2 separate regions of the Homo sapiens genome follow, and region 2 is linked to region 1. The links come from fine-mapping of genetic effects on plasma protein levels. Region 1 holds a variant in brackets. A gene starts in the other region. All regions are shown on their forward strands.

Region 1 (12,655 bases):
CCTTCACCCAAGCCACCATCACCTCTCTCTTAGAATGACTGAAATAACCTCCTAACTGGTCTTCCTTCCTCCACCCTTTCCTGCATTCTCCCAGAGGCGCCTCCCTGGCCATAGCTGAGTCAACCACAGTTGCTTTCCTGGAAATGGGCGACTGCAATGCTATTTGGACTTTTCAGTTGATCTGGGGTGATGTAAACTCGGGGAGCATCTGCAGGCAGAAAAAAGCAGGGAAAGGTGGTGTGCCTAGAAAGAGGAGTGACACAGACCTGCCAAATGGAGTAGAGGTGAGGAATCAGTGGCCCCAGGAAGAGCGAGCCTGAGAAAGGCACCACCTTCCTGCTCCTGGTGCTGGTCCCTCTTGGAATCTCAGGAAACTTGGAAAAGTAATGACTTAGGGTTGCATCTTAGGGAGAACTTGAAGGTGACAGGAGTTTGTAAAATAACAGGAGCCTCTACACATCAGGGATAATAAGACAAAACTCGTCTTTTGAGTAAAGGTAGACTTCATCAACTCTGAATTTGCTTGGTGATATTTAGGGCTTATAGTCATAGACTTAATTATCTTCAAAAATTATCATTATGTACGTTCCTAAACAGCAATAACTGTTATTGTGAATTTGAGCTCTCTGGATTGCAACCCTTCTTCTCCCCTTTAAGATACTTTTGGTATAACGAAATTTCTTAGGAATACTATATGGTGTTTTGGCAAAACAGACTACTGAGAGAAAAACAAATAAGGCTACAAAATACCACATTTTTATTTTGTTTTTTAAAGTGTTACATGCATAGACCAAGGTACGGCAGGATATACCACGAGTAGACAGTGGTTATCTATAAGTGGGGAAATAGACTATTATGGTCTTCTTTAGTTTTTCTGAATCTTCTCATTTTTTAATGTTTTTTAATTGTGTTAATTTTTTATAGAGACAGGGGTCTCACTATGTTGCCCAGGCTGGTCTCAAACTCCTGGCTATAAATGATCCTCCCTCTTTGGCATCTCAAAACACTGGGATTATAAGTGTGAGCCACAACCCCTAACCCCCAAGATAATCTTTTATAAATTTTTTATAAATTTATAAAATTTTCTCCTTTTCATACTATGAATCTGGGGATTTGTGGTTTTTTAAAAAATCAGGCAAGAGGAGGCCGGGCATGGTGGCTCACACCTGTAATCCCAGCACTTTGGGAGGCAGAGGCGGGTGGATCACAAGGTCAGAAGATCGAGACCATCCTGGCAAACACGGTGAAACCCCGTCTCTACTAAAAATACAAAAAATTAGCTGGGCGTGGTGGTAGGCGCCTGTAGTCCCAGCTACTCAGGAGGCTGAGGCAGGAGAATGGCGTGAACCCGGGAGGCAGAGCTTGCAGTAAGCCGAGATCACGCCACTGCACTCCAGCCTGGAAGACAGAGCGAGACTCCATCTCAAAAAAAAAAAAAAATCAGGCAAGAGGTGTGGATTTAGGCTTTTGTAGGGCAGGGATTTGTGAACACTTTGCTCCTGCTGTTCCTCAGGTACTGCGGGAGGCCTGACACACAGACATTGCTCCATTTTTTTTTCATAAATGAAGAAAGGATACAAATAGGGTCAAATGCTACAGAGAGGAAGTGTTGTCCGGAAATCCCATATGCAGAGACCTAGGGAAGGAGCTGAAGACTGGGAGAGGTTGACACAACAGTGGGGTAAGAGGGGGCAGGAAGCCAGAGCAGGTTCAACATTGCTGAGGAGGTGGGTGGATCAGGCACTGCAGGGGGATTCAACCAAATAGAAGGAGCAGAGGCCACCTCCTCCCTGGACATCAGATGAGAGACAGGGAGGAGAGGAGAGTAAGTGTGGATGCTGGTGAGGCGTCAAATTGCTGAGGAGCCTCCGGCCCAGCAGCCTTAGTTTCTTAGGTCAATGGGAGGCAACTAGCTGAGAGAGAAAGCAAGACCATGCACAACCTTGGGATGGCAAGCTAGAGAGGAAAGTGACCAAAATAACAAGAGGCCAGGAGAAAGCCGGAGAAAATCACTAAGTGGGAGGAATATAACAGGCAAGGAAATGTTAAATATGATAATAACATGAAATCAAAGCATGATGTAGGCTGATTTTTAAAAATGAAAAAAGATTGAAACATAATAACATGAAAACTGCATTAAATTATTCAACGAAAATAGTATGAACCTAAGCTGTACTGACAAGACATTGTGATGCTATGACACATGACATTGAAACATTCAAGAAGAAATACCGCAATGAAAAAATGTGGCTGGGCGCAGTGGCTCACACCTTTAATCTCAGTACTTTGGGAAGCCGAGGCGGGTGTATCACCTGAGGTCAGGAGTTCAAGACTATCCTGGCCAACATGGTGAAATCCCATCGCTACTAAAAATGCAAAAATTAGCCGGGCATGATGGCAGGTGCCTGAAATCCCAGCTACTCGGGAGGCTGAGGCAGGAGAATCGCTTGAACCCAGGAGGCAGAGGTTGCAGTGTGCCGAGATCACACCATTGCACTCCAGCCTGGGCGAGAAGAGCAAAATTCTAACTCAAAAGAAAAAAAAAAGTAAAGTAAAGAAAAATTACTAGAAGGTTTTCTGTTCAATTTTGCTGTGAACCTAAAACCACTCTGAAAAATCAACTCTTTATTGTTTTTTAATGCTAGAAGGCAATAAACCAAAATGTGCACTGGGTTGACTTTGAGTGGTGGAAATATGAGTGCTTTTTTTCTTTTTTTACCCTTTTTTTGGCTCTTTCTGTGTTCACACTCTGTACCTGTGTACCCCATGAGTCAGCCTGTGACTCAGCACCTCAGGTAGCCTTCCAAGGTCCCTCCTCCCACATGCATCCCTGAGGCTGCCTGTACCCATTTGCCAAGTTTGCCTCCACCCTCTACCAGTTCCAACCCGGCCACCTGCAGGGGAACAGGGCCAGGTTTCCCTGAGTGTGTTGCTGGCACTGCCAAAATCTCCCCAGTTTTTTTCACTTTCACTCCCAGCCCCATCTCCCTACTACTTAGGTGAGAAGCCCTGGACCTGGGTTGGTCTTGGCCTCAGCACTCAACTCCTGTAGCCCTCAAGGTCTCCCTAAGCCCCAACCCTGAGGCATTGCCTTTAGCAGGCCTGTGTGCTTTCCTCCTGACCCCCAGAAATGAGCTCCTCCCTAAGAGCTCTCAACCCTTCATTTCTTTCAGGGACATTGCTTGCACTGACTTACGTGAATTCCAGAGTGAGCCCAGTTTAGGTTCAAACTGAGACTCTGCTCAATGTTGCTAATCTCCCCTCACAGACTTGAAGCACCCTTTGAGCAGTGGGCCTCAGACCTTAGCTGCAAAGTGGAGCAGAAAAATAGGACCGTAGCTGATGAGATGTGGGATCAAGGGAGGGTTGTTATAAGATGGGAACTCCTACAACAGGCTTGTGAGCTGATGGGCAATCCAGAAGAGAAAAAAATGGATGTCACAGGAACAAGGATATACCTTGATCACTTTCCAAGCTTTATCTTTTCATCTCAAAACATCTCTTGGAAAGAGGTATATCTCAACTCTCCTCCCAACTCCCTGGAGCTATGACATCATGTAGGAAACACTGCCATCACAGTTAGAGGATTTGGAGTTACATCCCGATTTCCCAGTGGACTTGCCTTTCCAAGACTTCTCTGCTGTGATAAATAATGTTTGCCATTTATGGAGACCTTAGTCTACCCTGAAAGCCTGGCATACATTACCCTGAACCTTGACAACAAGCTTCCAATGCTGCCATCCCTTCAAGGAGGGAGGGGTCCAGAGAAGTTAAATTACTTGCTCACGATCACACAAGTCGGGATAGACTAAGCCCTAGGCTACCGCAAATTCACCCTGTGGCTCTCTCTCCACCACAGCACCTCTCTGTGTGTCACACAGCAGTTGAGAGCTCAGACTCCGAAGGCAGCTGGTCCTTGACTTAAACTCCAGTTTTGCCACTTACCCGCTGCTGTTATCTTGAGTGAGGGACTTAATCTCTTTGGCCCTTATTTTCCTCTTCTGTAAAATAAGGATAATAATAATTCCTACCATCAGGTCTTGATGACCATTAAATAAAATAATTTATGTAAAAAGTGTTTTTTTCAGTGCCTGGCACAGAGTAAGTCTTCAATTATGATATCACGGGAAACACACTATACATATAAGGATTTAGATAAGGGTTCTCCTTGTGTTGTAGAATCTAAAATAGAATTCAGGGATCAAAGTGACAATTTCATGGAAATAGGGCGGAAGCAGCTGATCTTTGGGTCTTTTTTTTTTGGGGGGGGGGGGACAGAGTCTCACTCTGTCACCCAGGCTGGAGTGCAGTGGTGCGATCTCAGCTCACTGCAACCACCACCTCTTGGGCTCAAAGCGATTCTCCTGCCTCAGCCTCCCCAGTAGCTGGGAATACTACAGGTGTGCGCCACCATGCCTGGCTAATTTTTGTATTTTTAGTAGAGAAAGGGTTTTGCCATGTTGGCCAGGCTGGTCTCAAACTCCTGACCTCAAGTGATCCACCCGCCTCAGCCTCCCAAAGTGCTGGGATTACAGGTGTAAGCCACTGCACCCGGCCTGGGTGCCTTTCAACAACTCGTTGCTCTTCCCTTGCAACAAAGCCCTCAGGAATCCCAGATTGCTCCTCTCTCTGTCTCCTTGCAAAATCTTCCAACAGATTAATGTTAGCATCTAAGTCCAAAGTGCGGTCCTACCAGTGAGCACAGACCTACCTGTTAGTGAGAGGCTGAGCTTACACGTTGGACTGGAGTGTGCCCATTTGCTCATGAAGTTGAAGGCTTAGAAAAGAGGATCCTATGCTGGAGAACAATTTCAAAACTCCATTCTCATCCCTGGCTTAATGACTGAAAGAATTCCCCCAACCCAGGGGCATTTGCTCTTTTTCTAAGAGGCCTGCCTAGGCCAAATAAAAGAATGGCTGACAGACCAGGGAGGGAAATATTGGATGGGGAGGTGGAAGAGAGGAGAAAGAGAAGGGGACAGAGAGAGGCCTTCTAGGAACTCCTCAGGTCAGACTTGGTCAGCAGCTGCCTGGAAAACACATACTAAGAACTGGCCTTCACAGGGCACCTAATTGTGGATAATCACGATCTGGGCAAAGATGGATGTTTCATGTCAAGTTCACTAGAGCTATAGTCCTGTTTGTCCATCGCAGTACACTCTTAGATTTCGAGCATCTCCCATTCTTAGAACTGGAAGGAAGCTTGCCTATTCAAACTTCATTTTATGGGAGCGGAAACCAAGGTTCTGAAAATTTAAGTGAAGATTCAAGTAACACAGCAACTAAGTCTGTCTTTTTGCTCTGTTTTATTTAATTAGAAACATTTTTCCAAATCTTCAGGTTCAGCTTGTGGTACACTAGGACCCCCAGATAGATCTCTTTGTTCCAGTGACCCTACAGGAAATTTCATAAACTCCTCACATACCCTCCATTCACACATTTCCTTTGTCCCCTTAGATTTTATTTCTTTAGTACATTACTTTGTTTGTTTGTTTGTTTGTTTGTTTGTTTGTTTGTTTGAAATAGAGTCTTGCTCTGTCACCCAGGCTGAAGTGCAGTGTCACAATCTTGGTTCACTGCAACCTCTGCCTCCTGGGTTCAAGCAATTCTCCTGTCTCAGCCTCCCAAGTAGCTGGGATTACAGGTGCCCACCGCCACACCCAGGTAATTTTTTTGTATTTTTAGTAGAGACCAGGTTTCACCATGTTGGCCAGGCTGGTCTCGAACTCCTGATCTCAGATGATCCGCCCACCTCAGCTCCCAAAGTGCTGAGATTCCAGGCATGAGCCACTGAGCCTGGCCCATTACTTTGTTTTAAGACCTAGCACGGAGTTGGATGCAAACAAGCATTTGTTACATAATCAGACAACTAGCGGATTCTCACTTAGGAACATGTGGGAATGTGCACAAAGACAGTACATGCTGAGTCTTGCCAGGGTCCCACTCAGAGGAGTGCTCAAGTATGCTGGCCAAGTGGGGAACCCTGCACTGCACAGCCCTGAGACCTGTACCTGCCTAGTCTCCCCACACCCCCAATACCTTTAAAGCTGGAGCAAAGTCACCTCTTTCAGGAAGACAGCCATGTTGTTTACAGTATGGGAACCAAGGGAGAGGTACGGATGTGGCCTCTTAGGTTTCAGTTGGGCAACACAATTCCTTCCCATGTCGGAAGTGACTAGATTTCTTCAGCGGTCCCTCCCCATTTACCTTCTAGATCTTACTTCTTCCATCCCCCTGATGCAAGCCTGGCTAAAAAAAAGGGGGTGATAGTTCTGGAATAACGTTGGGTCATTCATCCCCAAAACAGACATACATATGCACCCATGCATAAGCAACATGCACGTACACACTGTGGGTTACCTAGAAATCCCGTCAATGTATCCTCCTGGGGTACATAACATTTTCTGGAAGAAGGTTTTAACATAAGAAAGGGAAATAAAAAACAAGAAAAGGAACTTTGTTTTTCGTTTGATGTGCTATCTGAATTTCTGGTCATGATAATGGGCTGGCTGAAGAGGCATAGCAGCAAATCAGCAACACAAACATGCCCTCCATAGGCATCCTAAATAACTTTTTTTTTAATTTTTAAAAAGGCTGGGCGTGGTGGCTTATGCCTGTAATCCCAACACTTTGGGAGGCCGAGGCGGGCGGATCACCTGAGGTCAGGAGTTTGAGACCAGCCTGGCCAACATGACAAAACCCCGTCTCTACTAAAAATACCAAAATTAGCTGGCATGGTGGTGGGTGCCTGTAATCCCAGCTACTTAGGAGGCTGAGGCAGGAGAATTGCTTGAACCCGGGAGGGAGAGGTTGCAGTAAGCTGAGATCACGCCACTGCACTCCAGCCTGAGAAATAGAGTGAGACTCTGTCTCAAAAATAAATGAATGAATTAATTAATTTTTAAAAATAAATATCTGAGGTCAATAGCAGGCAAGAGAGAGAGAAAAAATCTCCAAGGGCCAGAAATGAAGAGGGAGCTTAAAAATGTATGGACTTATCAGGGAGTAGGATTAAAGCCAGAGGAACCCAGAAAGATACTAGAATTGATCATGTACCTTAAGGATGGGAATGATAATACCAGTGACCCTAAAGGCCCCATGTATAGCAGAAACTACAACTTGATTGCCTATAAAATTGTCAGGACCAAGAAAGAGCTGCCATGCCCTTGAATGGGGATAGAAAAGCACTTTGCAGCCTGAGACACAACCCCCAAGTGAGCTGCCTTCCTAGGTCATGAGAGAAAAGGGGCCAATTGAGGAACATTCCAGAATCCCAAGCCCTAGTATCAAGTGATGAGGACCCAAATCTGTCATTTGCAATGGTGTGGAAACTCAGGGCCAAGAAATATCAATAACAAAAAATGCTCTGAGCTATGTAACCCAGTAAGGCCCTAGCAGGTACAGCCATAAAGCCACCCCTGAATAGACTTCTTCATAATCCAGGGCACATGCAAGACTCCCATGAAACAAAAAAATGCCTTCAAAAGATGAATTAACAATAAAATGTTACAAAGAGCTGACAATCATCACAATCAACAGTCAGTCAACAGCAAATGGGAGAATTCACACCTGAGGAGCTAAAGATAATAAAGCAATTTGGATCTGACTTTAAAATAAGTATATTTTTTGCCACGCACAGTGACTCACACCTATAATCCCAACACTTCGAGAGGCAGAGGTGGGAGAATCACTTGAGGCCAGGGGATCAAGACCAGCCTGGGAAACATAGTGAGACTCCATCTCTCCAAAAAATATTTTAAACATTAGCCAGAGATGGTGTTGCGTGCCTGTAGTCCGAGCTACCTGGGGGCTAAGGAAGGAGGATTTTTTTTTTGAGACAAGGTCTCACTCTGTTGCCCAGGCTGGAAGGCAGTGGTGCAATCTTGGCTCACTGCAACCTCTGCCTCCCAGGATCAAACAATCCTCCCACCTTAGCCCCCAGAGTAGGTGCATTCCACCATGCCCAGCTAATTTTGTGCATGTGTGTATTTTTTTGTGGAGATGGGGTTTCACCATGTTGCCCGGGCTGGCCTTGAACTCCTTGACTCAAATGATCCTCCCGCCCTGGATTCCCAAAGGGCAGGAATTATAGGCGTGAGCCACCGCACCCAGCCCCTAAATTTTTTTTTTTAAATAGGTCAAGCTTGGTGGCTCATGCCTGAAATTCCGGAAATTTGGGAGGCCAAGGAAGAAGGACTGCTTGAGCCTAGGAGTTCAAGACGAGCCTGGGCAACATAGTAAGATTCTGTCTCTACAAATTTTTTTTTAATTAGCCAAAGGTGGTGTTGCATGCCTGTAGCCCCAGCTACTCAGGAGGCTGAGGCAGGAGGATTTTTTAATTTTTTTTTTTTAAATAGGCAGGGTGCAGTGACTCAACCTGTAATCCTAGCACTTTGGAAGACAAGGAGAGGGGATCACTTGGGCCCAGGAGTTGGAGACCAGCCTGGGTGACATAGGGAGACCCCGACTCTATTTAAAAATTTAAAACTAGCCAGGCAGGCATGGTGGCACACACCTGTAGTCCCAGCTACTTAATAGGCTGAGGTAGGAGGATTCCTTGAGCCTGGGAGGTCAAGGCTGCAGTGAGCTGAGATTGGGCCACTGCATTCCAGCATAGGTGATACAGTGAGATCCTGTCTCAAAAATAAAATAAAATAGAATAATTCTTTTAAAAAAATTAAAGAATAAGGAAAACGAAGGGTGGAACACTGTCAAAGAACTAATACCAGATAAATTTACATAACCTAAATTTCCAGATTAAGAAAATTTACCAGGCGCCCAGCACAATGAATGAAGAAAAACACCACCAAGGTACACATCATGCATTCTAAAACTAAAAAGAAGATTTAAATTCTGAAATGATGGCATACAGTTAAAATCCAAAGCAATCTTTAAAAAAATCTACTAGAACCAATAAATGAATTTACTTAGGTCCCAAGTTACAAGGTCAATATACATACTGCAACTGTATTTCTATATACTATGGTAACCAAAAAAAGAACTGGAAAATGAAAACTTTTTAAGATATCATTTGTAATCGCATCCAAAAAACCCATAAAATACTTAGGGACAAATTTTGCAAAGTATGTACAAGATTTGTGTACCAAGAACTATAAAACATCCTTTGCAAAAAAATTAAAGAAGACATAAATAGAGAAAGATATCGTGCCCATGGACTGGAAGACTCAATATGACAATGTCAATTTTCTCTAAATTGATCTATGAATTCTACATAATCCAAATCAAAATCCCAGCTGGACATTATATAGAAATTGATAAGCAGATTCTAAAATTTCTCTGGAAACATAGTCAAAGCAATTTAGTAAAGAGGAACTGGCCCCTTTCCTAAGAGTCACCTGTCCAGGTTGGAAGAAGACAATGAAGGACTCCCGGAGAGAGGTCTTTGAGAAAGAAAAATTAATAGATTATCCGCTGAGTGTGAATGTATTGAGGGAGACATTGGAACTGATGTCATGATAAGTACATGGAACATCCTCTCATCAATTCCAGGGAAAACAAAACTTGTACAAAAAAAATTGGATCCTACTGTGAATAATTTTTTACATAGTCATAATAACAAAAAAATTGAATGTCGACTTAACCAAAAAATGTGGCATCTGTTTCTGGAGAATGGAGAAGGCAGTATTTGTGTTTGCTTGGATTGGGGTGAAAGCAGGAGAGGGACTGGGAGAATATTACATTCTCAAAGCCAAAAGAGAGAGTCAGTGATGATAGCTAAACCTGGAGGGGGAGAAAAACAAGAACTAGCAGAGGGCTGGTCACAGTGGCTCACACTTGTAATCCCAGCACTTTGGGAGGCTGAGGTGGGGGGATCACTTGAGGTCAGGAGTTCAAGTGATGAACTGGCCTGGCCAACATGGTGAAACCCTGTCTCTACCAAAAAATGCAATAATTAGCCAGGCGTAATGGCGGGCACCTATAGTCCCAGCTACTCAGGAGGCTGAGGTGGGAGAATGACTTAAACCAGGGAGGCGGAGGTTGCAGTGAGCTGAGATCATGCCACTGCACTCCAGCCTGGGAGACTGAGTGAGACCAAAAAAAAGAAAAAAACTAGCAGAACAAGTATGATATTTAGAAATATATAGATCACTATCCGATGAAACAGCTATGAGAGCTGACAGCTGCTGCCCTTGTCTGCAGGGATTGGAGCTGGAAGGCTGCTGGTTTTTTGTTATAAGCTTCATAAAGCCATTTCGTTTTTTCAACAATGTGTATAAAATACTTAGACAATAGAAAGAAAATTTAATCTTAAAAAGTCGAGTTAACATATTTCGATTATTTTTTATTTATTATGTCTTTGATTCATTTCTACCCTGAAGGTTGGAAGGAAGACTTTGGATTTAAAAACTGAATACCAGGCTGCAAGAAAACATTGGTGCTGAGAGCTCCGCCGTTAGCTCCTTGTGGCTTTCTGGGTGGAACCTAGAGTGGCCTCTCTGACCTCTGCATGGAAACGGCAAAAGACAGGGCTCCACCACTGTCTCTTGGTGAGTGGTCTTCTCTAGGAAGGCACCTCTTTGGGACGATCCTTAGACCAAAGAGGAGATTGTCATGTTACTCATTTGCATCTATGAGATTTTTCAGTCTCTGAAAGACTCTTATTAAAATACTACTTTGCTGAGAAAGGGGCAAATTTTACCTCTATGGCATAAAATGTTGATTGTCAATTAGTATTTTTGCTGGAATTAACAAGAATGGGCCAGGGGATGGAGGGCAAGGGGTGGTGAGAGGCTGTGGTTGGTCAGAAGTGGAACTGGTTTAGGGGAAAACAGTAGATTTTCACATTTTGATTTAGAGTCTCAAACGTTGTCACCAAGGCTACAAAACAAACTTTAGGATTTTAACATCAGGAAGCATTGTGCAGAACATGCCGTTACATCCTAATCCCCGTCCCTCACCTTACCCTGATGTACATCCCCTCTGTAATCCCAATCTCATCACTGACCCCTCCCATTTCTGACCCCCACTCCTGTCCTAAGATTCACCCCATCCCTAGTGCCAGCCCCATCCTGGACAAGGGAGTCCCTCCTTAAGGCAAACACTCTCCCTGGCTCTGACTGGATCTAATCCTCACCCTATCTAGTAATTGAAATATCAGTTTTTGGTACTTCAATATGCTGTTAACTAAGTACCAAAATCCTGACATTTTTTAAAAATCTGAAATCCAAATCATTTGTGTCTTGAGCTATACCCAGAAAATTACAGGCTGCATTAGAATTTCCAATCAGCCTGGGTGCAGTGGCTCACACCTGTAATCCCAGCACTTTAGGAGGCCGAAGCAGGCAGATCACTTGAGCTCAGGGGTCCAAGACCAGCCTGGGCAACGTGGCAAGACTCCATATCTACAAAAAATTTTAAAAATTATCTGGGCATAATGGCGCACAGCTCTGGTCCCAGCTACTCTGGAAACTGAGGTTGGAGGATCACCTGAACTCAGAAGGTTGAGGCTGCAGTGAGCTGTGTATGCACCACTGCACTCCAGCCTGGGTGACAGAGCAAGACCCTGTCTCATTAAAAAAAAAAAAAAAATCCAATCGAAAAATGTTGCACTTGTTTGAAGAGTCCACTATATCCCTCCCCTGTTTAAAACACTTCTGAGTTATTTTGTTGCTGTTTGAGCCTCATTTAGTTCCTAGTGAGACTGAGCATTTTTCATGAGGTTATGAGTCATTTGCATTTCCCCTGGACCCAGTGTGGATCCCTATTTACTTACTGAAGCCTCTGATGGAGTTGTCCTTGCAGGAGCATAAGGTGAAGAAGGAGGAAGTTGGACTTTGAGGAAACAGTAGGAGAGGTGGAGGGAGATCAGCGGAGGGAGGAG[A/C]GGAAAAGGAGGCCCCAGTTCTCAGCCTTCTGCCCTAGATTCTCTGTGCATCCTTTGCATCCTTCTTGTCTTCTCTGCTGAATCAGGTCTATCTCTTAGGGCTCGAGTGCCTAACTCCCTCCTCACTCACCTGCCTGGAGAGTCTTAAGCAGGACAGACTGAGGAGCCTCTGTCTTTTGGCCCCGGAAGAGGATCTTAGATGATGCTCCAGATAGGATGGTGACCCTACCAGGCACGTCTTCTGCTCCAGCCTTATAGCTACTAAGCCTTCCCTGATATTCATTCCAGGCCTGACACCCCCTCCCTGAGCCTCACCACTCCCCCACACTTATCCCATTCCAAAGTCTCACTCTCCATATCTGGTCCCAGCTCCATGTTGAATCTCCCTGTTCCCAACACCTCACTGTGACCCTGACTCTCACTCTCCCTCCTTGTAGATCTCTACCGATTCCTGGCATTCATCCTTCTCTGACCTCATCCCAAGCTGCCACCCCATCCCTGCCCCCATCCCAGCTTTGATTTCAACATCAATCACTGATCCCCATCTGAAGCTTGATCTAGGTCCTGTCTCTGAGCCTCACCCTATTCCCAACCTCAAGCCTTCCCTGATCCTTCCCCACACAGGCTAAACCCACACTCTCAGTTTTGCTTAAGCTAGTTTGACTTCTCTTTCTATCATTTGCCATCAGAAGAGCCCTGACATCTTAAGTCCTCACTTGGGACATTTTTACACAGATAAACATCTAATGAAGCTAAACCACAAAGGCAAACTTAATAAGTGGACAGACGGAGGCTGAAAGCGGAGAGGACAGA
Region 2 (12,655 bases), not on the chromosome of region 1:
AGAAATAATTATCTAATACAAGATCACAAAGATCAAAGCCTAACTTTTTTCCTAAGAGTTTTATAGTTTTAGCACTTATATTTAGGTTGCTGATGTATTTTGAGTCCAATTTTGTGTATGGTGTGAAGTAGTGGTCCAACTTCACTCTTTTGTATATTGATATATGATTGCCCAGCATTATTTATTTAAAAGACTATTCTTTCTCCCATTTATTTATCTTGGCACCCTTGTTGAACACCAACTGATCATAAACTTATGGTTTTATTTCTGGACTCAATTCTATTGCATTGGTATATATTGTCCACCGTAGGCCAGTACTACACAGCCTTGATTGTTGTAGCTATGTAGCAATTTTGAAATTGAGAAGTATGAGTCTTGCAAATTACTCCTTTTTAAAGATTGTTTTAGCTACTCTGGGTCTCTTATTTCAGAATTTGCTTTTCAATTAGATAGAGTCCTTTTAACTTCTCATACTTTGTAGGCAGGGTACAAGGAGGCTGTGATTTAAGGTTTTGGTACCTACTTGATTAAAGATCCTGGGCTGACCTTGGTTGATTCCACAGTTTTTTTTAGCTTACATCATAATATCAATTTTGAGGCTTAGAAAATTTCTTATATCAGGATAAGAAGAATGAGAGTTTACAGATTTAAAAAAAAATATAACATTTCGTATTTCAAAATGCCAGAATTCTTTGCTCTGAGGAAAGTAACCGCATATGTAATCTGAGAGAACATGTCCCCAGCACTTTGCAAGCATAAACTAATGACTTCCTCTCTTACCTGTGCCTTTACCAGAGTCTAGCTAAAGACAGTTGGAGGAACAGGGAGTTGGCAGTCCTACTCACGGTAACTTCATAGTGTACTATAAATCACATGATGGCAAAAAGTATGCAGAACTTTTTCATTAAAGAATGTTCTTACAGAAATTCACAGTGAAAGAATCTGAACCATAACAGAGGATAGGAGAGAACAATAGAAAACACTTCAGAAGGGTAAAAACTGAGTTATTCCAGAAAAAAAAAATTTTGTAGATAAACCAGAATTAATTTTGCCCCAGAAAACTAATGTGAGTCCAGGTTAGATTGACTGATTGATTAATTGATTGGCCCAAAATGGAAGAAGACATCAAATGCAAATGTGAGACTGCCAATTGAATATAAAACAAAAATGATTTAATTAAACTTTGTGAAACACGTTGTCAATACTGGAATCAAAGTCGATGGATTATTGGAGTCAGTTATTGTAATTTTGGGACAGGCTTACAGAACAGGATCATATTTTGAAATACTAACTAATGTGTTTTCCTCCTGCGTACCCACAGCAGCAGAGTCAGCATATTCTATCAACTTGTTACTCCCACAGTGCCACATAGCACCTAACCTAAAACTAGCAAATAATCCACTTCCATTTAAAGGAGCACTAAAATTATAATGCTTTCTTGTTGCCACCATTGAATATCTACCCTTAGCAGCATTCAGCATGTCACTCATTGAGGATGAAGAAGTAATCATAACTACCTATTTATTTAAATCTTGCTCAACTTTTTTTCCAAAATATGACACATGGACAATCCCTTTCTCGAGGCCCTACTTATTTACAGGAACATTGCAGATATATTGTGGGTTTGGTTCCAGACCACTGCAAGAAAATGAATATCAAAATAAAGTGAGTCGCAAAATTTTTTTGTTTCCCTGTGCATATAAAAGTTGTGTTTACATGATACTGTAGTCTATTAAGTGTGCTATGGCATTGTGTCTACAAAATAAGAATCCCTTAACTTTAAAATACTTTATTACTAAAAACTGCTAACAATTGTTTAAGCCTTCACCACGTCATAATACTTTTCCTGGTGGAGAGTCTTGCCTCAATGTTGATGGCTGCTCACTGATCAGGAAGTTGGCTGCTGATGGTTGAGGTGGCTGTGGCAATTTCTTAAAAGAAGTCAGCAATGAGATTTGTGGCATTGATTGACTCTTCCTTTCACAAAAGATTTCTCTATAGCACATTATGTTGTTTGGCAGCATTTTATCCACAGCAGAACCTCTTCCAAAATTGGAGTCAATCCTTTCAATTCCTGATGTTGCTTTATCAACAAAATTTATGATGTAATACTCCGTATCCTTTGTTATCATTTCAACAATCATCACAGCATTTTCACCAGGAGTAGATTCCATTTCAAGAAACCACTCTTTGTTCATCCATAAGAAGTAATTCTTCATTTATTCAAGTTTTGTGATGACATTGTAGCATTCAGTCACATCTTCGGGCTCCACTTCTAATTGTCTTACTATTTCTACCACATCTGCAGTTATTTCCTCCATTGAAGTATTGAACTTCTTAAAACTATCCATGAAGGTTGAAATCAACTTCTTCCAAACTCCTGTTAATGTTGACATTTTGACTTCCTTCTATGAATCACAAATGTTAACAGTACTTAGAATGATGAATCCTTACCCAAAATTTTTCAATTTATTTTTCCCAGATCCATCAAAAGAATCACTATCTCTGGCAGCTACAGCCTTACAAAACGTATGTCTTAAATAATACTATTTGAAAGTCAAAATTACTTTTTGATCCATGGGCTGCAGAATAGATTTTGTGTTCACAGGCATAAAGGCAACATTAATTTCTTTGTACATCTCCATCAGAATTCTTACATGACTATGTGCATTCTCAATGAGCAAAAGAATTGAAAATACACTTTACAAGGGAGATTTACAAATGGCAAGCAAGCATCCTTAAAGGTGTTCAACATCATTAGTAATCATGAAATAATAATTAAAAGCTTAATGGGATACTACTAAATGCCTACCAGTAGCTACAATTTTAAAAAGAATGATGATGATGATATGGAGTAGTCAGGGCACACTTCCTTTGTGGGTGGGAGTATGAAATGGTAAAACTCTTTTGACAACAGTTTACAGCATGGCTTATTGAATATTTTGAGCCCACTGTTGAGACCTACTGCTCGGGAAAAAAATAATTTTCTTTCAAAATATTACTGTTCATTGAATTTCCTAGGAACCATTATGAAAATTCAACAGATGGCATATCTGTATCTGTTCCTGTACTTTAATTGGTTTCATGGGTCTCTCTGTCTCTCCTTACTCCAACTGTCCTTGTTAATGTGTTTTATATTGTGCCTTGAAATCAGATAGTGTGGTTTCTCTTTGTTCTTCTTTTTCAAAATTGAGCTGTTATAAGTCTTTGCTTATTCATATAAATGGTATAAGTGATGTATCAATTTCTCAAAAACAGCTTAATGTGATTTTTATTTAACGTTGCATTGAATGTGCACACTGACTTGGGGAGAATTATCAGCTTAGCAATTTTGAGTTTTCTAATTTATAAACATGATATTGACACTTTGTTATTTGCTTCAGTCTTTTTATCTTTTTTTTTTGCAGCCTTGTGATATACAGCATAGAATTCTTGTTCATCTTTTGTTCAATTTATTCTTAAGTGTTTTATAATTCTGATGCTATGGTAAATGGTATTTTAAAAATTCTATTTTCAAATATTTTGCTGGTATAACACAGAAATAAAGTAGACTTTTACATATTGTCTTTTTATCTTCAAATTTTATTAAATTCACTTATTGGTTCAGTATATTTTATAATTTATTTTTAGTTTTCTGTATTAATGACAATTTTATCTGCAAATAAGGACAGTTTTATTTCTTCCTTTTTCATTTTTATGTCTTTATTTCTTTTTTAAAACTTACTTCACTGCCTATAACCATTAGCATAAAATAGAGTTGAAATACTGAGACTAGAAATAATTGTCTTGCTCTTTTTGAAGTAGATCAAGTGTTATTCAAATCATTTGTACATTAATTAATATTTTTGTCTACTTCTATTAGTTACTTAACGGTATTAAAATTTCTAACTGTGATTGAAGATAATACCTGTTGTAAGTTCTAATTGGTAGTTTTGTTTCATGTAATTTGAAGCTTATTTAGTAAGCATGTATAAATTTATAATTTTTTTTATTTATTGACCATTTATCATTATGAAATGTGCTTATGTATCTCTGATAATACTTGTTTTCTTGCAGTCTGTTTTGCTGAATATTTATAAGGCCACTCTAGACTTCATATGGTACTGGTTGCATGGTGTTTTTCTTTCCATTCTTTGATTTTCAATCTGTATATGCCTGAATTTAAGCAATTTTTTTTCAAACCATCACAGAAAGCTGGCTGGATATAGTTCAATACAAAACTTTCACAACTTCCATTTACTACAAAGAACGGTCTTGTGCACAGCAACATTGTGGTCTATTTCTAATACATGAGCCACCACATGTTTTCCTGTTCTATGACATAATCCCTCCCGGTCATAGCATTCATCAGTCTGGTCTCAAATTCAAGTTAGGGAAAAAAAGTCAAAACTGTTTCTAACGTCAGAAATATATTGTGTTCCAAAGAAAATAACTTCCTGTCTGATTTACTAATACTGCAATTTTTGGAAATCAAAATGATTCAAAGTAAAATATTTTGTTAAAGCAATTTGGTCAATTTACTCTTCAGAGGAAGTCACGCTTTAAAATCCCAAAATGCTAGTAAGAAACTTATAGTCCAACATTAGCCAGAATTTCTAGGATTTTGTGACTTTTGGCTTGGCATTGCAACACCTTTTATGTCAGTGTGAGCAATTTCCTAATTCCCAATTCTTATACTAAAAAATAACATTTAAAATATGCATGAAAATAGTTATTCACTGGAAATTCATAATGAGATTTAATGAATTAGTGGCAAAAAATCAACTCTAAGACATATTTTTTTCTTATTTTTTTCTTTTGATCTTTGTTTTGTCGATGTGGTGAGGGCACTGGTGGTAGTGGTGGTGTACTTGTGTGTTTGTCTTTTAAGTTCATGAACATTGCCTGGGATACTTGTCAAATGTTAGGTCTTCCCTATTTTTTCAAGCAGTGACAAGGAAGGAAAAAGACGGTTTTGAATGTCTAGGAAATACAAAAATCACACATATACAAATATATTACAATTATTCCTATTAAAACGGCAATCCTGAGGTTCTACTATATATTAAATGAGAATTAAATATATTATGAAGTAATACAGAAGACAGTATCTGCTGAAAAATACAAGTTATGAAGGTAATGTTGATCAGAAATTATATATCAAACAAGCATTATTTAGCACAGTATTAGAAATCTAACTTACATAAAAGACTTTTGTAGTATAGAAATGCCTTCTCAAAGTTATTTAAAATATCTAACATTAAAATATACATACATATATATATATATATATATATATATCTTTCCTTAGCCCAGAAGAAATTTTTGAAGAAAGCAATGAAGACTTCCTGTTTCTGAAAAACTTAAGGCTTTTAGAAACATTTAAAACTTTAATTCTTATCTTTTTTTATCCTATGTAGCAACTCTTGTTGTCAACAAAAACTTTTCTAACGTTTGCACAGTTGGACAACAGATAACTAGCTGCCCCATCCACACAAGAGGTGGGGAAGAGAAGCCCAGCTATGATTATTTGAAATCTAGCTCAGTACAGACTAAGTCAAGGTTCATTGATTTAGTCCTCAAACAGATATAATCTGAAATGAGCAGCAAGGAAAATTAGATAATTGGCAAAAGGAAGAAAAATATTCCTGGCATTTCAAAGCAAAGGTGAAGCAACCCTGGAGCAAAGTCATTCCCTGGATGATAGTACTTCTTCATTGGACTACCAGCTCAATTTAGGAGACAGACTGCATTCACATTGCAAAGTAAACTCAGCAGTTGCTGGTGTTTTTTCCTTTTTCTTTGCATACATGCAAGTTACTCTATCCTCCACTTAAACTCTTATTGCCTTCCTTATACTGAAACACTTGATATGCTTAACCTGATAATAATTATTGCAATTATATAGCATTTCTTAAAGGTAATACAAAGAATGGTGAATATAAAAAATAAAATCTTGGAAAAAACATTTGAAAAGGCCTAACCTAAGCCAAATACTAAATCATATAATTAAAGGCTTCTCTAGTTAGAAAAAATCAATTTAGAATGACATACACACACTGTTAACATTCAACGCAGTGTAATGTAATCAGATTTTTCCATTGTCATTTATCTCCAACAATCTCTATGTCACAAAAACTATGTAATTTGGTTAATACATTAGTTATATGTATTTTTTCTTTTAATATCAAGTGCCTTGCCGGATTCTGAACATTCTTTTGAACAGTTTGAATTCAAAGACAGAAAATATCGTTGATATCATTCTAACTTTCCCTAAGAATAACCCAGAAATAATTTCCCACATAGGAGGCAGCCAATTCAAAATTGTAAAGTTTAAAAAAATACAGGAGTTAATGACAATAAACAGCCCCATTCTTTTCTCTTTAAGATCTACTTGTAAGGTAAAGAACACCGTAAAATTAAAAAGTTGTTATCATTATCCATCACCAAGTGCTCATAGACTGTTCGCTGTTGAACTAAGAAATTATGTGAGGTTGTGTGAGAAATGTAAGATATCGTCACTGATTTTAAGGAGTTCGTAGTTGACTTGAGGGAGATAAAAGTAAAATTAAGGAGTAATTAAACTCTGCCTCATGCAGTGGTTATTGTAAGTACACTAGATGTTCGAAGAGCAAAGGTGGAAGGAATACTCTATTCTGGCTTTGTCAGAATAAGCTTTTTCAAAGACAGGACTTTGAATTTGCCTTGAAGAAAGTGAGGGATATAGAAAGTGGTTTCAAGTTGAATATGTTGGAAGTCTCTTTTACCCTTGATATTACTGTGGTCCCAAAGATAGGAGTGAATGGATTGAGGTTCTCAATAACTTAAAATGTGGTTTCTGGGAAATATAATAAAGTGGTTACCCAGATTGTGGAAAGCCACTGTGGGGTGTTTGCCAGCAACTGTGAAGAAAGTGGTTTGTAATCTGGAAACTATTAAAAATTACTGGGGCACGTTCTCTGGTGTTTAACTGCCAATTCTGGATTTTCTATTACTTAACTCATTCTCTGGGAGAGAGATTTTTTTTTTTTTAATCAGCCTCAAAGAATAAATGTGAAGCTCAAGAAATAATGAGCATAAAAGTGTTTTGAACGCCACAAACTCTTTGGAATGTTTTCATTCATATTATATTAATCTGTGGTACAATGACTAAAATAGGATTGATTTTGACAGGGAGTAAACTTTTCAGGCCATCAGGATGCAAATGGCATTGGAAGAATTTTTCCCTTATTGTTGGGAACAAAAATAACACAGAGCTTTTCTCTACCAGCTGGACACAGTGCAGGTAACACAAATGGTTTTCCTTTAAACTAGTGAAAAGGGAGCAATGACTTTTAAAGTCCTATGTCTGTCGTAGTTCTTCATGCTTTCCATCTTAACCTCAGGGGATCTTTGCATCATTCATGTTCCCTCCTGTATTTTTACAAGGCCAACATCAGAGAATGCCTAGATAGAAGCCAGACATGGACAATGACCCAGGCTGATTTTCATGGGAAGCCAGGAAAAGCGACACATTGCTTCCTGATTAGGTTGGGTAACCCAACAACTCACTTTTATTGGGGACTTTCTATTACTTGCTTATCAACTGCAGAAATATTTTTTCTTCTTACATTCTATAAATAATCCTTTGTGAATTGATTCAGAGTGCAAAGCAGGTAAGACATGTGTACTTATAAGACCATCAGGAGGAACTGGCAATCTTGTCTCATGATTCCTCTCTGATTTTACCATTTGGTGCCAAAAACAAATTCATATGTTCATTTATGTTTAAAATGGCTTATTCAGAACTAACCCACATACAGACAGGGAGAGAGAGTTTAAAAGTCAATAACCTATGTCATCTCTAAACTTTTTTTTAAACAAAGCCTTATACTGTGGTTTATTCCCTGTGGTTAAGTTGAATTAATTGCCTAGGAGCTGAGTCACATTTTTGAAGTTTTGTCTTAGCCATTTCAGCAAGGCTTATCTTTTGTCTTTAGACACATTCTAATCTTTAAAATGTCAATATGCTAAATCTGCAGGCTGTTTTCTACAGATTACCACTCCCCAAAAAGATGAAGGATTCCATTTGCTGAGTCAGGTATGATGTTGATGGTGTCAGGAAGCTGTGAGAACTTCTCATTTAGCTTCCCACAAACTGAAGGCCAAACCACCCAGCCTTCCTCAGCCAATGAATTTCTTGTTTCCTTCCAGAATCAAAATTGTAAAGGTCTGTGACACCTCTTTCTTGCTCACCAATGGAGGTGACAGGAGAGGAAGTTAATAAAATTCCCCAGTGTCACAAGGGACAAGGAAAAGAGTTGTGTTCCATAACTGGCTTCTCAATGCCGTCATGTTTACTGATGACCTTTGCTGGCCTGCACTGAGGACAAAGTTCTTCAGAACCAGCCAGAAGAGGATCTAGTTAGACTTCTGTGAAAGAAAGTCTATGTGCCATTCCAGTGCCGTACTCATGCCTGCCATGGAGCAAGACGGTGGAAGACACTTAAACCTTCAGTGCTTTAACTCCTCCACGGATAACAAAGAAGGAGAGAGGGAGAAGCTGGAAGCTACTTCACCCTTCAATTTCAGGAGGCAGTGCAGGGCTCACTGGGGACTAGAACAGGTCTGCAGAAACAGCCTTGGTCACCAGTAATCATGAAATTAGATGGTTCCAGAAGCCTATGGGGAGAATTCCTCCCCCCATGAGGTTGTTTGGGGGAAAACAGACTGGGTGCTATTATGCTGCCCAATTGATGCAAATCTCTAGAAGAAGCTTTCACATGAGCCCCTCAAATTCATCAACCTCCTACAGCATCTCCAAATGGTGTCAAAAACACACCTGGGGGTGGGACCAGAGCTGGGGCAGGCCCGGGCTCCCTGGCAAACTTCAGTCTATGCTCACCATACTACACTTCACTCCCAATAAGACCAAAACCTCTTCCAATTCAATAGCATAGCAACCGCCAAAAGTACATTTTATCTTCCATGGCAATTTGCTGGGTGATTTTTGTTTGAAGATATTTTTGTTTATTAAACTGCCTCAACACACATATGCTTGCTAAACTACAAGTATACAATTTCTAATAAACAGATTTCACTTTGGGGCCAATTCAGGCAACTTGTTGACTTCAGGTGGGGATAGAGCCTCTTTCATCACGTTATCTTGGCTTCTAAAGCTGTTTGAAATCCAGATAATCAAAAAGTCATTCAAGAAACCTAGAATGACCTGCCTGCAAGAAGAGGAAGGACTCTCAGTTTAGGGCAATAATCATGAATAACATTTCCTGAATAATAGTAATAATAATTAGAAAGGATTGACTTTCAGAAATTTTTCTCAAGTCAAAGCTTCCACTACTATGGTTCCAACTTTTCTCTCTTTTTTTTAATTTTATTATTATTATACTTTAAGTTTTAGGGTACATGTGCACAATGTGCAGGTTAGTTACATATCTATACATGTGCCATGCTGGTGTGCTGCACCCATTAACTCGTCATTTAGCATTAGGTACATCTCCTAATGCTATCCCTCCCCCCTCCCCCCAGCCCACAACAGTCCCCAGAGTGTGATGTTCCCCTTCCTGTGTCCATGTGTTCTCCTTGTTCAATTCCCACCTATGAGTGAGAACATGCGGTGTTTGGTTTTTTGTCCTTGCGATAGTTTACTGAGAATGATGATTTCCAATTTCATCCACGTCCCTACAAAGGACATGAACTCATCCTTTTTTATGGCTGCATAGTATTCCATGGTGTATATGTGCCACATTTTCTTAATCCAGTCTATCATTGTTGGACATTTGGGTTGGTTCCAAGTCTTTGCTATTGTGAATAGTGCTGCAATAAACATTCGTGTGCATGTGTCTTTATAGCAGCATGATTTATAGTCCTTTGGGTATATACCCAGTAATGGGACGGCTGGGTCAAATGGTATTTGTAGTTCTAGATCCCTGAGGAATCGCCACACTGACTTCCACACTGGTTGAACTAGTTTACAGTCCCACCAACAGTGTAAAAGTGTTCCCATTTCTCCACATCCTCTCCAGCACCTGTTGTTTCCTGACTTTTTAATGATTGCCATTCTAACTGGTGTGAGATGGTATCTCATTGTGGTTTTGATTTGCATTTCTCTGATGGCCAGTGATGGTGAGCATTGTTTCATGTGTTTTTTGGCTGCATAAATGTCTTGAGAAGTGTCTGTTCATGTCCTTCATCCACTTTTTGATGGGGTTGTTTGTTTTTTTGTTGTAAATTTGTTTGAGTTCATTGTAGGTTCTGGATATTAGCCCTTTGTCAGATGAGTAGGTCGCGAAAATTTTCTCCCATTTTGTAGGTTGCCTGTTCACTCTGATGGTAGTTTCTTTTGCTGTGCAGAAGCTCTTGAGTTTAATTAGATCCCATTTGTCAATTTTGGCTTTTGTTGCCATTGCTTTTGGTGTTTTATACATGAAGACCTTGCCCATGCCTATGTCCTGAATGGGTAATGCCTAGGTTTTCTTCTAGGGTTTTTATGGTTTCAGGTCTAACGTTTAAGTCTTTAATCCATCTTGAATTAATTTTTGTATAAGGTGTAAGGAAGGGATCCAGTTTCAGCTTTCTACATATGGCTAGCCAGTTTTCCCAGCACCATTTATTAAATAGGGAATCCTTTCCCTATTGCTTGTTTTTCTCAGGTTTGTCAAAGATCAGATAGTTGTAGATATGCGGCATTATTTCTGAGGGCTCTGTTCTGTTCCATTGATCTATATCTCTGTTTTGGTACCAGTACCATGCTGTTTTGGTTACTGTAGCCTTGTAGTATAGTTTGAAGTCAGGTAGCGTGATGCCTCCAGCTTGGTTCTTTTGGCTTAGGATTGACTTGGCCATGCGGGCTCTTTTTTGGTTCCATATGAACTTTCAAGTAGTTTTTTCCAATTCTGTGAAGAAAGTCATTGGTAGCTTGATGGGGATGGTATTGAATCTATAAGTTACCTTGGGCAGTATGGCCATATTCACGATATTGATTTTTCCTACCCATGAGCATGGAATATTCTTCCATTTGTTTGTATCCTCTTTTATTTCATTGAGCAGTGGTTTGTAGTTCTCCTTGAAGAGGTCCTTCATGTCCCTTGTAAGTTGGATTCCTAGGTATTTTATTCTCTTTGAAGCAATTGTGAATGGGAGTTCACTCATGATTTGGCTCTCTGTTTGTTTGTTATTGGTGTATAAGAATGCTTGTGATTTTTGTGCATTGATTTTGTATCCTGAGACTTTGCTGAAGTTGCTTATCAGCTTAAGGAGATTTTGGGCTGAGACCATGTCTCTGTTTGTTTGTTATTGGTGTATAAGAATGCTTGTGATTTTTGTGCATTGATTTTGTATCCTGAGACTTTGCTGAAGTTGCTTATCAGCTTAAGGAGATTTTGGGCTGAGACCATGGGGTTTTCTAGATATACAATTATGTAATTTGCAAATAGGGACAATTTGACTTCCTCTTTTCCTAATTGAATACCCTTTATTTCCTTCTCCTGCCTAATTGTCCTGGCCATTGGAGAGGAGGAGCATCTCCCAGACAGCTGCGTGCCTCAGAGAAGCCAGCCTCGCTAACCCCTCAAGCCCAGGGGATGAGACCCTGCTGAATCGCTGCTCTATTTTGGCTGGAGCCACAGCTCCCTCCACCGCGGGGCGGGGCTAAAATGTCCTCCCCCTTAAGGGAGCAGGCAGCTCCTCCCAGCCACCCACCCCACCAATTCCCATCCTCCCGCCCCCCTCCACCAACCCCTTCTTTCCACACTGCCCCCTGAGTTCAGGGAATTTCCCCAGCATCCCAAAGCTTGAGTTTCCTGCCAGTCGGGAGGGATGAATGCAGATAAAGGGAGTGCAGAAGGCACGAGGAAACCAAAGTGCTCTGTATCCTCCAGTCTCCGCGCCTCCACCCAGCTCAGGAACCCGCGAACCCTCTCTTGACCACTATGAGCCTCCCGTCCAGCCGCGCGGCCCGTGTCCCGGGTCCTTCGGGCTCCTTGTGCGCGCTGCTCGCGCTGCTGCTCCTGCTGACGCCGCCGGGGCCCCTCGCCAGCGGTGAGAGCTCCTGGCACTGGGGTGCATCCCAGCCTCTGCGGGGCCGCTGCGTTCCAGGGAACTCTCCCAGCAACCTGCCCTATAAAAATGTCTTTCTTCCCCAGCTGGTCCTGTCTCTGCTGTGCTGACAGAGCTGCGTTGCACTTGTTTACGCGTTACGCTGAGAGTAAACCCCAAAACGATTGGTAAACTGCAGGTGTTCCCCGCAGGCCCGCAGTGCTCCAAGGTGGAAGTGGTGTAAGTTCTCCTGTGTTGCTGTGTCCACTGTGACTTAGGCAAGTCCTCCAGCCTGGGTCGTCAACCTTTGTGGCTCATGGGTGCATCCTCTTTTTCTTTACTTCAGAGCCTCCCTGAAGAACGGGAAGCAAGTTTGTCTGGACCCGGAAGCCCCTTTTCTAAAGAAAGTCATCCAGAAAATTTTGGACAGGTATTTGTCCCTTTGATCTTTGTGGTGTTTTAATATCTTCTATGGAAAGCATATACTTCACAATGTCCTTATTCTCTCTGTAGGATTTAGACTATGCTTAGAATTATAAGGTTGTTAAGAAGAATAAGGAAACTTTTTTTCTGGAATGTTCTGGGTAAACCTTTATCACCAATCTTACATGCCTGAACAATTACACAGAGCTCATTACTGACA

Which allele goes with the higher level. Positions count from the first base shown, and alleles are read on the strand shown. Strength reflects both the effect of a copy and how common the allele is.
As copies of C replace A in region 1, the plasma level of the protein whose gene starts at base 11,834 in region 2 goes up (weak association).

The links. A credible set is the group of variants that fine-mapping cannot tell apart. PIP is the chance, under the fine-mapping model, that this variant and not a neighbour inherited with it causes the effect. Protein levels are from antibody-based Olink assays in UK Biobank. Linkage for the fine-mapping came from a reference panel and not from the study's own genotypes, which makes the PIPs less certain.
Region 2: CXCL6 starts here. The variant in region 1 is the best candidate, but not a certain one, in a credible set for the plasma level of the CXCL6 protein (UK Biobank, PIP 0.83).

What each region holds. Positions count from the first base shown.
Region 1 is chr2:218,150,133-218,162,787 of GRCh38, forward strand. No RefSeq gene overlaps it. Among named protein-coding and RNA genes, the nearest start is that of CXCR1, 11 kb to the right of the region's middle. The variant A/C (reference allele first, on the strand shown) is at 11,843.
Region 2 is chr4:73,824,845-73,837,499 of GRCh38, forward strand. It overlaps CXCL6 (C-X-C motif chemokine ligand 6), which reads left to right and starts at 11,834. Exons shown (of 4, transcript NM_002993.4): 1 at 11,834-12,015; 2 at 12,120-12,252; 3 at 12,359-12,442. The coding sequence starts at 11,907. RefSeq lists silencers at 7,908-8,202, 11,808-12,102.